3 linked regions of the Homo sapiens genome follow. The protein of the gene in region 1 purifies or fractionates together with the protein of each later gene. This does not show direct contact. Each region holds a gene or a part of one and is shown in the gene's direction. Other genes may lie near its edges.

The links.
Region 2: the proteins of RUSC2 (region 1) and WDR47 purify together in Homo sapiens (affinity purification with western blotting; one study listed by BioGRID). This does not show direct contact.
Region 3: the proteins of RUSC2 (region 1) and P4HA2 purify together in Homo sapiens (co-immunoprecipitation; one large-scale study listed by IntAct). This does not show direct contact.

The regions. Positions count from the first base shown.
Region 1 is NC_000009.12:35,545,504-35,549,154, forward strand, and holds part of RUSC2 (AP-4 complex accessory subunit RUSC2), read left to right. Parts: intron 1-926; 5' UTR 927-1,018; coding exon 1,019-3,032; intron 3,033-3,651. UniProt on the Homo sapiens protein: Associates with the adapter-like complex 4 (AP-4) and may therefore play a role in vesicular trafficking of proteins at the trans-Golgi network.
Region 2 is NC_000001.11:109,011,103-109,014,753, reverse strand, and holds part of WDR47 (WD repeat-containing protein 47), read left to right. Parts: intron 1-826; exon of another isoform or gene 827-828; coding exon 829-913; coding exon of another isoform or gene 914-934; intron 935-3,035; coding exon 3,036-3,651.
Region 3 is NC_000005.10:132,217,804-132,221,454, reverse strand, and holds part of P4HA2 (prolyl 4-hydroxylase subunit alpha-2 isoform 2 precursor), read left to right. Parts: intron 1-2,810; 5' UTR 2,811-2,828; coding exon 2,829-2,910; intron 2,911-3,536; exon of another isoform or gene 3,537-3,606; coding exon 3,607-3,651. UniProt on the Homo sapiens protein: Catalyzes the post-translational formation of 4-hydroxyproline in -Xaa-Pro-Gly- sequences in collagens and other proteins.

The DNA.
Region 1 (3,651 bases):
GCTTTAGCCTATAAGAGGTAAAACTGGGAAGAGAAGACTTTCTAGTGGATCCCAGTAGTGAAGGTTCTAAGCTAAAACTGGGCAGCATTTGGGCACTTCAGGATGTCTGTATCCTGAGCTAGACGCATGTTAAGAATGTATTATGCCTTTCACGTTTATCTTGTGTGATGTGTTAGAATGATACAAAAGACATAAAACTAGGTCCCCCCACCCCCATTGAGGAGGAAGAGGTTGACATCAGTCATACTTGCAGTCACCCTAATGCCCAACTCAGTGTCTGCATTCAAGAAGTTCTAGTATAGTAGTGAGGATAGTAAGGATACTTAGCCCACGGTCATCAGAAAGGGACAAATATTCTGGGGCTTGTAGGACGAGAAAGGGGATCAGAGATAACAGTCACTTGGTCAGATGATACCGTATATTTTAAAATGCTTCTTGCAAAATTATAGCTTATTGCTATGAGTTCATATTATTCATGATTTTCCCTCTTGGCTGTAAACTTGTGTGCTATAGCTGTGTCTAAGCCTTAAACATCCTAGATGGTTTTTTCTTAATTGTGTCATTATTCATAGTTTTTTTGTGCTAAGGACTGGTCATTGTTTACTGCCAAGGAGAGGGTCCTTGAAAGAGAAAGGGAAAGTACTGCCCAAACCTTCATATGTGGCATTAGAAGGACTTGGCCTTTTGTCATAATTTGATGCATAGTGACCTTAAAATTAAGGGGGACCTCAGGTGCTGCACCTGTGCAATGCAGAAAGCATGGTTACGTCCCCACCTGCCTATTGGGCTGTGTGGTCAAGCTCCATCTTGACTCAAGCCTTTTCTCTTCCTGGGCTCTTCTCCATCTGAAAATGATGTAGGGAAGGGCATGCCCCTGACTTCCAGGGAGGTGACATTAGGTTCCCTTTCTTTCCCTCTCTCTCCAGGTGCCAAGCTCTCCTGATGAAATGTGTTCTGCCCCACTGGGCTCCAGGGACAGTGTCTGGTGCTGTTGAAGCCCTTATTCGAACTTTCCAGAATGGATAGTCCCCCAAAGCTGACTGGAGAGACCCTCATCGTTCATCACATCCCCCTGGTGCACTGCCAAGTCCCAGACAGGCAGTGCTGTGGAGGGGCAGGTGGAGGTGGTGGGAGCACAAGACCTAATCCCTTCTGCCCACCTGAGCTGGGCATCACCCAGCCCGATCAAGACCTAGGACAAGCTGACTCCCTGCTATTCAGCAGCCTGCACTCTACTCCAGGAGGAACTGCACGGTCTATAGACAGCACCAAGAGTAGGAGTCGGGATGGAAGAGGCCCTGGAGCCCCCAAACGACACAACCCCTTCTTGCTGCAGGAGGGTGTGGGTGAGCCAGGACTTGGTGACCTGTATGATGACAGCATTGGTGACAGTGCCACCCAGCAGTCCTTCCACCTGCATGGCACTGGCCAGCCCAACTTTCATCTATCCTCTTTCCAGCTGCCACCATCTGGCCCCAGAGTGGGCAGGCCATGGGGGACAACACGCAGTCGGGCTGGAGTGGTGGAAGGGCAGGAACAGGAGCCAGTGATGACCTTGGATACTCAGCAGTGCGGCACCAGCCACTGCTGCCGGCCAGAGCTGGAAGCAGAGACTATGGAGCTGGATGAGTGTGGGGGACCTGGTGGGAGTGGCAGTGGGGGTGGAGCCAGCGATACCTCTGGCTTTTCCTTTGACCAGGAATGGAAGCTCAGTTCAGATGAATCCCCAAGGAACCCTGGATGCTCCGGCTCAGGGGACCAGCACTGCCGCTGCAGTAGCACATCCAGTCAGTCCGAGGCAGCTGACCAGTCCATGGGCTATGTGAGCGACTCCTCCTGCAACAGTTCAGATGGTGTGCTGGTCACCTTCAGCACCCTCTACAACAAGATGCATGGCACCCCCCGTGCCAATCTCAACTCTGCCCCACAGTCCTGCAGCGACTCTTCCTTCTGCAGCCACTCAGACCCTGGCGCCTTCTATCTGGATCTGCAGCCCTCCCCATTTGAGTCTAAGATGTCTTATGAGTCCCATCACCCTGAAAGTGGAGGAAGGGAAGGGGGCTATGGTTGCCCTCATGCCTCTTCTCCTGAGCTTGATGCCAACTGCAACTCCTACCGCCCACACTGTGAGCCGTGCCCAGCAGTGGCTGACCTCACAGCCTGCTTCCAAAGCCAGGCCCGTCTTGTTGTGGCCACACAAAATTACTATAAACTTGTCACCTGTGACCTATCTTCCCAATCATCCCCAAGCCCTGCTGGCTCTTCCATCACTAGCTGCTCTGAGGAACACACCAAGATAAGTCCCCCACCAGGCCCTGGCCCAGACCCAGGCCCCAGCCAGCCCTCTGAGTATTACCTATTCCAGAAGCCAGAAGTCCAGCCAGAGGAACAAGAAGCAGTGAGTTCCTCCACCCAAGCAGCAGCTGCTGTGGGCCCCACTGTGCTTGAGGGACAAGTATACACGAATACTTCACCCCCCAACCTCAGCACTGGACGTCAGCGCTCCCGCAGCTATGATCGCAGCCTGCAGCGCAGCCCTCCTGTCCGCCTGGGCTCGCTGGAACGTATGTTGAGTTGCCCAGTGCGCTTGAGTGAGGGCCCTGCAGCCATGGCCGGGCCTGGCTCCCCACCCAGGAGGGTCACCTCCTTTGCCGAGCTGGCCAAGGGCCGGAAGAAAACTGGAGGCTCTGGCTCGCCCCCACTTCGTGTGAGTGTTGGGGACTCCTCCCAGGAGTTCTCACCCATCCAAGAAGCCCAGCAAGATCGGGGGGCCCCACTGGATGAGGGCACTTGCTGTAGCCATAGCCTGCCACCCATGCCTTTGGGGCCAGGCATGGACCTACTTGGCCCAGACCCAAGTCCACCCTGGTCCACCCAGGTCTGTCAGGGACCCCACTCCAGTGAGATGCCTCCTGCTGGCCTCAGAGCTACTGGGCAAGGCCCCCTGGCTCAGCTGATGGATCCAGGGCCTGCTCTCCCAGGGAGCCCAGCCAACAGCCATACCCAGAGGGATGCAAGAGCTAGAGCTGACGGTAAGGAGCCTAAGGGTTAGCAAATATGTGGCTATTCACCAGCAGGATATGCATGGCCACCTCCCTGACAGGTCCCTGCCAGACCACCCCATCCATACCACTAGAGGTTCCACATCCTAGATCTGTTATCCTTCTAGGCCAGGGCAGGACCCACAGCTACAGTGGAATAGGCTCACTGGAGAAAGACAGAGGACTCAAAAATACACTGAGCAGACTGGGTGCAGTGACTCACACCTGTGATCCCAGCCCTTTGGGAGGCCAAGCCAGGCGAATCACTTGAGGTCAGGAGTTTGAGACCAGCCTGGCCAACATAATGAAACCCCAGCTCTACTAAAATAAAAAATAAACTAGCCAGGAGTGGTAGCACCCACCTGTAATCCCAGCTACTCAGGGGGCTGAGGCAGGAGAATTGCTTGAACCCAGGAGGTGGAGGTTGCACTGAGCTGAGATCATACCACTGCACTCCAGCCTGGGCAGACAGAGTGAGATTCTGTCTCAAAAAAAAAAAATAAATAAATACACTGAGGAGATAAAATCAGCAGGACTTAGAGGCTGACATATTGGGAAATGAAGGATTCAGAAGACTGATTCTGAACCTGGATGATGGGAAAGATGAGGC
Region 2 (3,651 bases), on another chromosome or scaffold:
TTAAAAAGCTTTAAATTGGGACCAGGTGCAGTGGCTCATACTTGTAATCCAAGCACTTTGGGAGGCTGAGGCAGGAGAATTGCTTGAAGCCAGGAATTTGAGATCAGTCTGAGCAACAAAGTGAGACCCGGTCTCTACAAAACAATTTTAAAAATTGGCCGGGTGCTGTGGCACACAGTTGTAGTCCTAGCTGCTTGGGAGGCTGAGGCAGGAGGATTGCTTGGGCCAAAGTTTGAGGCTGTAGTGAGCTGTGATCATGCCACTGTACTCCAGCTTGGGTGACAGAGCAGAAGACTCTGTCTCTAAAAAAAAAAAAGAAAAGGAAAAAAGCTTTAAGTCTCTAGTTATTTTGTAGTGTTTTAGAAATGTTCATTTTCTCCTACCCTTTCAGCCCCATTTTTTATTAGACTTTTCTCATATTTAAAAAGAAAATATTTGATTTAATCTTTCTACAATGTATATGTATTTAAAAATGTAACATACCCCATAAATATATACTATTATTTGTTAAAATTTTTTTAATAAAAAACAGGATGTAAGGTAAACAAAACATTTTGGATATAAGACTTGATTTAATATTAGGTAACATTTGATATCTTCCATAAAAATTGGATTGTTGTTTACAATTAATATTGGAAGTATAAATTCATTCTCTGAGTGTTAAATTGTGATTACTTGTGACTGAACTTCAGTTATGGCTTCAATGTGATAAGAAGCCTAGTAAATTATTTGAATAATTTTCCTAAAGCAAAAGTACTTACATAGTAACTTCTAAGTATATTTGACATCAGACATTGGAAAAATTAATGCTTCATTTTTTTCCCACAGGTTTCGTTATATTATCCTGAAGCAGAAGTTTTTAGAAGCTTTATGTGTTAACAACGCGATGTCAGCAGAAGATGAGCCCCAGCATGTAAGATTTTTATTCCTGAAGGTTTGCGCCCTAGTCTTGTTTTCAGTCATAAGTATTTTAGTCACTAAAACGAAGGATTAGCATCACAAGTTTTCAGAGTTTTTATGAGCTGGGATGGGGCAAGATCTGGTGTTTTCCAGGTGTAGTATTTTCATTCTGTAGCGCTTCTAAACTTGTTCCATGGTTTAAGCCAAGATATATAAATAGCTGGCTAGTTGAAGAGTGTGTGCATCTCTCTTGTTTAAGGTAAGTCAGCAATAGATAAAGTTTGACTTGATGACTCTTCATCATTTCTTCTTTTTTTTAAATCCCGGAAGTGGGTTGGTTATATTTATGTCCTTTTTCTCTGTCTTTTCTGTATTGTCTTTGATCCAGAGATAGTTTTTTTTTTGCTGAAATGTTTGTCTTCATGACTATTTAAATTTAATGAAATTAAATTCATTTTGATTAGTAAAGTGACTTTTAAAGATTCAGTGTAATACTAAAACCGAGAAAACTTGTATTAAGTTCTGGTAATTGTTAACTGAAGTAAAGTGTCTTAGTCCATTTGACCTGCTATAACAAAATATCATAAACTAGGGGGCTAGTAAACAATAGAAGTTTATTTCTTACAGTTCTGGTAGCTGGAAAGTCCAAGATCAAGGTACCAGCAGATTCATTGCCTGGTGAGGGCCTGTGCTCTGGTTCATGGATGGTGCCTTCTAGCTGTGTTTTCAGCTGGTTAAAGAGGCTAGCTAGCTCTCTGGGGTCTCTTATATGGGCACTAATCTAATTCACGAGGGCTGAGCATTTATGACCTAGTCACCTCCCAAAGGCCCTACTTTTCCAATACCATTACCTTGCGGGGTTAGGATTTCAACATAGGAATTTTAGGGAGGCACAAACATTCAGACTGAGGCAAAAACCAAAGGATTTTACAGTGGGGACTTTCAGATACAGATATATTTGCCAGATAATGATGTTCAAAAGTGAAAAGAACACTGGAACATGAGTTAGGAGACCTATTTTTTATTCCGTCTTTGCCACTAATCAACTGAATTACCTTGGTAAATGTGTACCCTGACTTTTCCCATATGTAAGATATGGTGGCTAGACTAGGTGAGTGCTGAAGTTCCTTACATCATTAAAAGCTTATGATTCAAAGACAATATTCACTATACAAATTATTATAATTTGTCTCTCAGCTAAGCTTCCATTTTGGTCTGTCTGGATTGTTTTGTAGTAAGTCAACTTTAGGCATTCCCTTTCTGTTTTTTTTTTTTTTTTTTGAGATGGAGTCTCACACTGTCACCCAGGCTGGAGTGCAGTGGTGCGATCTCAGCTCACTGTAACCTCTGCCTCCTGGGTTCAAGCAATTCTCCTGCCTCAGCCTCTCAAGTAGCTGGGATTACAGGTGCCCGCCACTGTGCCTGGCTAATTTTTTGTATTTTTATTAGAGACGGGGTTTCACTGTGTTGGCCAGGCTGGTCTCGAACCTCATGATCTGCCCACCTTGGCCTACCAAAGTGCTGGGATTACAGGTGTGAGCCACTGTGCTCGGCTCCCTTTTCTTGACTTTCTATCTCCACACAATTTTGCTCTAAGGTAAGTTTGGACTAACAGAGTGGCTCTTTTGCCTTTTGGGTAAGCTGGAATAATAGCAAAGTTTATAAACAATTGAACATTGGCATGCTTCAATTTTCATTTCTAGAAAAAAAATTCTTACCGTTAAAAAATTATATATTTGAGAGCTGGGCACAGTGTGGCACACCTGTGGTCCCAGCTACTTTAGAGGCTGGGGATCACTTGAGCCCAAGAGTTCAAGGCTGTAGTGCACTATATTTGTGTGTATGAATAACCCCTGCACTCCAGCGTGGGCAGCAGAGTGAGATCCTGTCTTATGCCTGAATTATAATAGAACAGTGTTTTTATAGATAAAAGTTTAATGTACTAATAAACCAAGTTTATTATTTTTATTTTAGTTGTGAAAACATTATGTTCCTATCTTGAAAGCTGTTGCATATCCTACAAATTATATGAGTATTCTGTGGCAATATAATTTATTCTTTGTACTCTTGTCGTTTTCATATTTCATAGCATGTTTTTTATAGTGATTATTTGATCATTTATATTTTTCTTACAGCTGGAATTTACCATGCAAGAAGCTGTGCAATGTTTACATGCTCTAGAAGAATACTGTCCTTCTAAAGATGACTATAGTAAGCTCTGTTTGCTTTTGACTTTGCCTCGTCTGACCAATCATGCCGAGTTTAAGGACTGGAATCCCAGCACCGCACGAGTTCACTGTTTTGAAGAGGCTTGTGTCATGGTTGCAGAATTCATCCCTGCTGATAGGAAGCTAAGTGAAGCTGGTTTTAAGGCTAGTAACAATCGTTTATTTCAGCTTGTAATGAAAGGCCTGCTTTATGAATGCTGTGTAGAATTTTGTCAGAGTAAAGCAACTGGAGAAGAAATTACAGAAAGCGAAGTGCTTCTTGGCATCGACCTCTTATGTGGTAATGGTTGTGATGATTTGGATCTGAGTTTACTGTCATGGCTTCAGAATCTTCCATCTTCTGTCTTCTCTTGTGCTTTTGAACAGAAAATGCTTAATATTCATGTTGACAAACTTCTGAAACCTACAAAAGCTGCATATGCTGATCTTTTGACTCCTCTTATCAGCAAACTCTCTCCCTATCCATCATCCCCAATGAGAAGACCTCAATCAGCTGATGCCTATATGACCCGCTCTCTGAATC
Region 3 (3,651 bases), on another chromosome or scaffold:
GTAAAATCTTCTATTGTTGTAGTTTCCTAATTTGAACAAGTCTGTGGTGAAGTATTTTTTGTTGTGTTCCTGGTATGGGACAGACATTGTTCTAAACTCTGGGGATGCAGCACAGATAAAACTCAGTATTGGTTTTCTGCTCAAGATGTCACTTTGTTTTTCATAAAAGTGGGTTTGACATTGTTCACCTCCAGACTTATTCCAGTTGGATTCTGAGGGTTTCTGGGAGGGCTTTTAGCAGCACTGGACACTTTGTAGGGGCACTCAGCAGGTACACATACTTTCACCTACTCTGTCTTAAGCAAGCTGTGGGCATAGTTATGAGATGGGTTGGAGGTTGGCCTTTCCCACATTGTGGGGCACAGTCCCTCTCGGATGCTGCCTCCTCCCAATCTGACTCTAATTAGAGGACTTTTTGTACAGAGCCTTTTGAGTTAAGGGGCCCAGGCTTGGGAGAAATGGGGTAGGGCTCCAGAGTACCCCTGCCAGAGATGTCAGTGTTGATGTGGTAGTCTGGGAGCTGCTGCTTGGAGGTGCCCAGCTCTCCAGGCTAGCAGAGTTAGTTATCCCCTTCTCCCACCAGAGCAAGACTTTGCAGGCTCTTGGTAGGTAAGTCATCTGTAATTACCTGTGATTCTTTGAGGCTCTGCCCAAACCCCATCTGTGATTCTTTGAGGCTCTGCCCAAACCCTATCTGTGATTCTTTGAGGCTCTGCCTCCAGGCTGAGATTCAAGAATGGGCTCAGTCTAAGCCAGATCGCACATTCCAGAGAAATCACAGCTGGTATTCATGTAATGAAGAAACCTGGCTTTCCCTGAGTGTTGTGAGGTATGAACCGTAGATGATAGGAGCAGAATGATTTGAAAGGAATGGACAGACTTCCTCCCTGGAATTTATCTGGCCTCTAAAAAGGTATGCAACTGCAACTGGAGACACACCTGGGTAGAGATGCTGGGTTCCCCACTTCCAACCATGTCTGGTTTGGAACCTGCCTGGGCCCTGTTCTCCCACCACCCCAGCTCTGAGGAGCAGTCAGCTGGTCCCTTTCTGATCACAGATACATCCTCCCAGCTCTATGTTTTCACTGTCCCCTCCCTACATACATACAGAAGGTGCTGAGCCTGAGCCAGTCAAGCCTTTTGAGGAACAAGAAACAGACACCCAATCCCTTAGGTATAAGGGGCTTGTGTAAGCAAGAGAGAAGCCTTCTGAAATCCTGGGATAGAGAAGACAGTATAGTAAGGCCTTGGAGCAGACCTGTGGCTAGAACCAGGAGGGCCTGGACTCTGCCTCAGGGCAAGCCCAGGCTTACTCACTTTCTCTTGATGACTTGCTCTCTTCTGCTGCTCTAACTCCCTAATGGACCCCTTAGCACAATACGCCCTACCCTGCAGCAGGTTCCAGGTTGGAAGATAATTGTCCTGTGTGTCTTGGGACCCCCACACCTAGACTATGACAGGAAGACTGTCAGCTCTGCAGACATTTGGCATAGGCATGAACACATGGCGCCATTCACTTATGCTTTCCTTCTGATAGAGGATCCATTTGCAGATGGGAGTTGTGGTTGGCCTTCTCTGAGCCTAACCTGGAATCTCAATGGATTAGGATTTCTTCTGAAAGAGTAAGATGAGGAATGGTGGGTGTGCTGTGTGTCTAATCAAGTATGGCGGGCAAAAAACTGATGAACTGGCATTATCTTAGACTTAGAATTCTGTCAGATAAGGCTTATGTTTTTTTGGGAAAGCATTTGTATTTCCTTTGTTTTGCTTGCTTTGTCTTAGTGAATTTCCATTTGAGCACTCCAGTGGGGTGCTCAAAAGCAGGGCAGGAAGAAGACCGGCAGAGCTGGGGTACAGATGGGTGCTAATCCTCCAGCACAGTCTAGGCTGCATGGCTGAGCTGGGAGACGGTATCGGAGGCTTCTGTTGTGGACTGAGGTTTACTGCCAGTGGGGTTTGTCTCAGGTTGTGCCTATTTCTGGGCTGATGAGAAGACAGTAGCTGGCCCCTTTCCCATGTCAGCAGCCCAGCCTGAGGTTTTGGCCATGTGTGCCATATTCATTTTTGTATCCTGAGTGCCTAGATCAGTGCCTGGCATCTGCAGGTCTTCAGTAAATATTTGTGAATGAATGGTGACGGGCCAGTGAGAACAGTGTCTGCCAAGGAGCCTTACTACAGGAAGAACACTGTCTACCTAGGAGACTGTCTCCTCTGACTGCTCTTTCTCTGGCAGGTGCAGACTGACAAGGGTTAGTTTTATTCCTCTTCTGGCTGGCCATCTGTTGTACACCTTAGTTTGGGTGTTGGTACTCTGGAGGATATTGTGTCAAATTATCTTTCTGTTATTGTCTCTCATGTACTGTTGCCTCCTTGTGGGCAGGGACTGGTTCCCCAAAACCTGGCACTGTCCTGGCATATGTGTTGGAAGGTAAGATAGAAACAAACAGCAGTCTGTGAAATAAGAAGGAGTGGGCCAGAATCTTGGACTGACAGACCATTGGAACCCGAGCTGACTGTACCCCACTGCGATTCCGCCTTCTCATGGTACAGGTGGTTGCTGGGAGTTGAGAGGATGGGCTCTCTCCGCAGGGCACGTGACTTCCCAGAGCAGGGACCAGAATTGAGCACACATCACTGGCTGCACGCTCTTTGTTCTTTCTGCTGTTTGTCCTTTTTAGCTTCTGTGTGCTAGGCCAGGATTTTGATATGTTTGATTATCTGCATATGTGTGTACATGCCTATGTGTCTCCTCACCTAAATTAGTCTTTTTCACTTTGTTGATCCAGTGATTGTCATTGAATGCCTTTCAGACACTTCCCTCTGTGACCATGAAACTCTGGGTGTCTGCATTGCTGATGGCCTGGTTTGGTGTCCTGAGCTGTGTGCAGGCCGAATTCTTCACCTCTATTGGTACGTGCCAACAGGACTGTCGTCTCCCTGACACCTTGGCTCACATGCCACGGATGTCTCTGGCTGCAGCCTGTTCTCATTTAGAGTGGGATAGCCTTAACTACTGGTTTTGGCCAGTTCTGAGGAGAGTGGAACTGGCAGAGTTGCTGTTTTCCCCTATAAGATCCCAATGATCTGGATGTTCAGGGAGCCAGATGTCTGAATTGGGTCTTTCTTCCTGGGAAGTGCAGGCTGCACTTGGGCTCTCTGGTCTTTTTGACCACCTTGCCCATGGACCAGAGAGTGGTTCTGAGCAGCAAATCCTTTGTATCCTGAGGATCAAGCTTTTCCTATCCTTCCGACCTAAAGTTCAGAGCTTTTTATCCTGTGGTGAGCCCCCAGGATATCCATGCCCCAGTGTCATGACCAGCTATGTAACAGTCGGAGAATGAGATTTAGGGCTGCTTCTTGAGTGACATCCAGTGCACTTATCTCAAACATCCCCTTGGTGCCTCTGCCTCTTTCTTCCTGAAGTTGCGAGATAGAGCCCCATGAGTGCCTAGGCCCCCTTTAACTCCAAGTCCCCATAATCCTCAGAGAGCTGACATGTTCTTATCCCAGGGGACTTGCTTCTGTGCTGGTATTCTGTGCCCCAAGGAAGGAGGCTGGACATCCCTCATCTGTTTCTCACTGGTGTCTTTCTTCTCTCCCTTGCAGGGCACATGACTGACCTGATTTATGCAGAGAAAGAGCTGGTGCAGT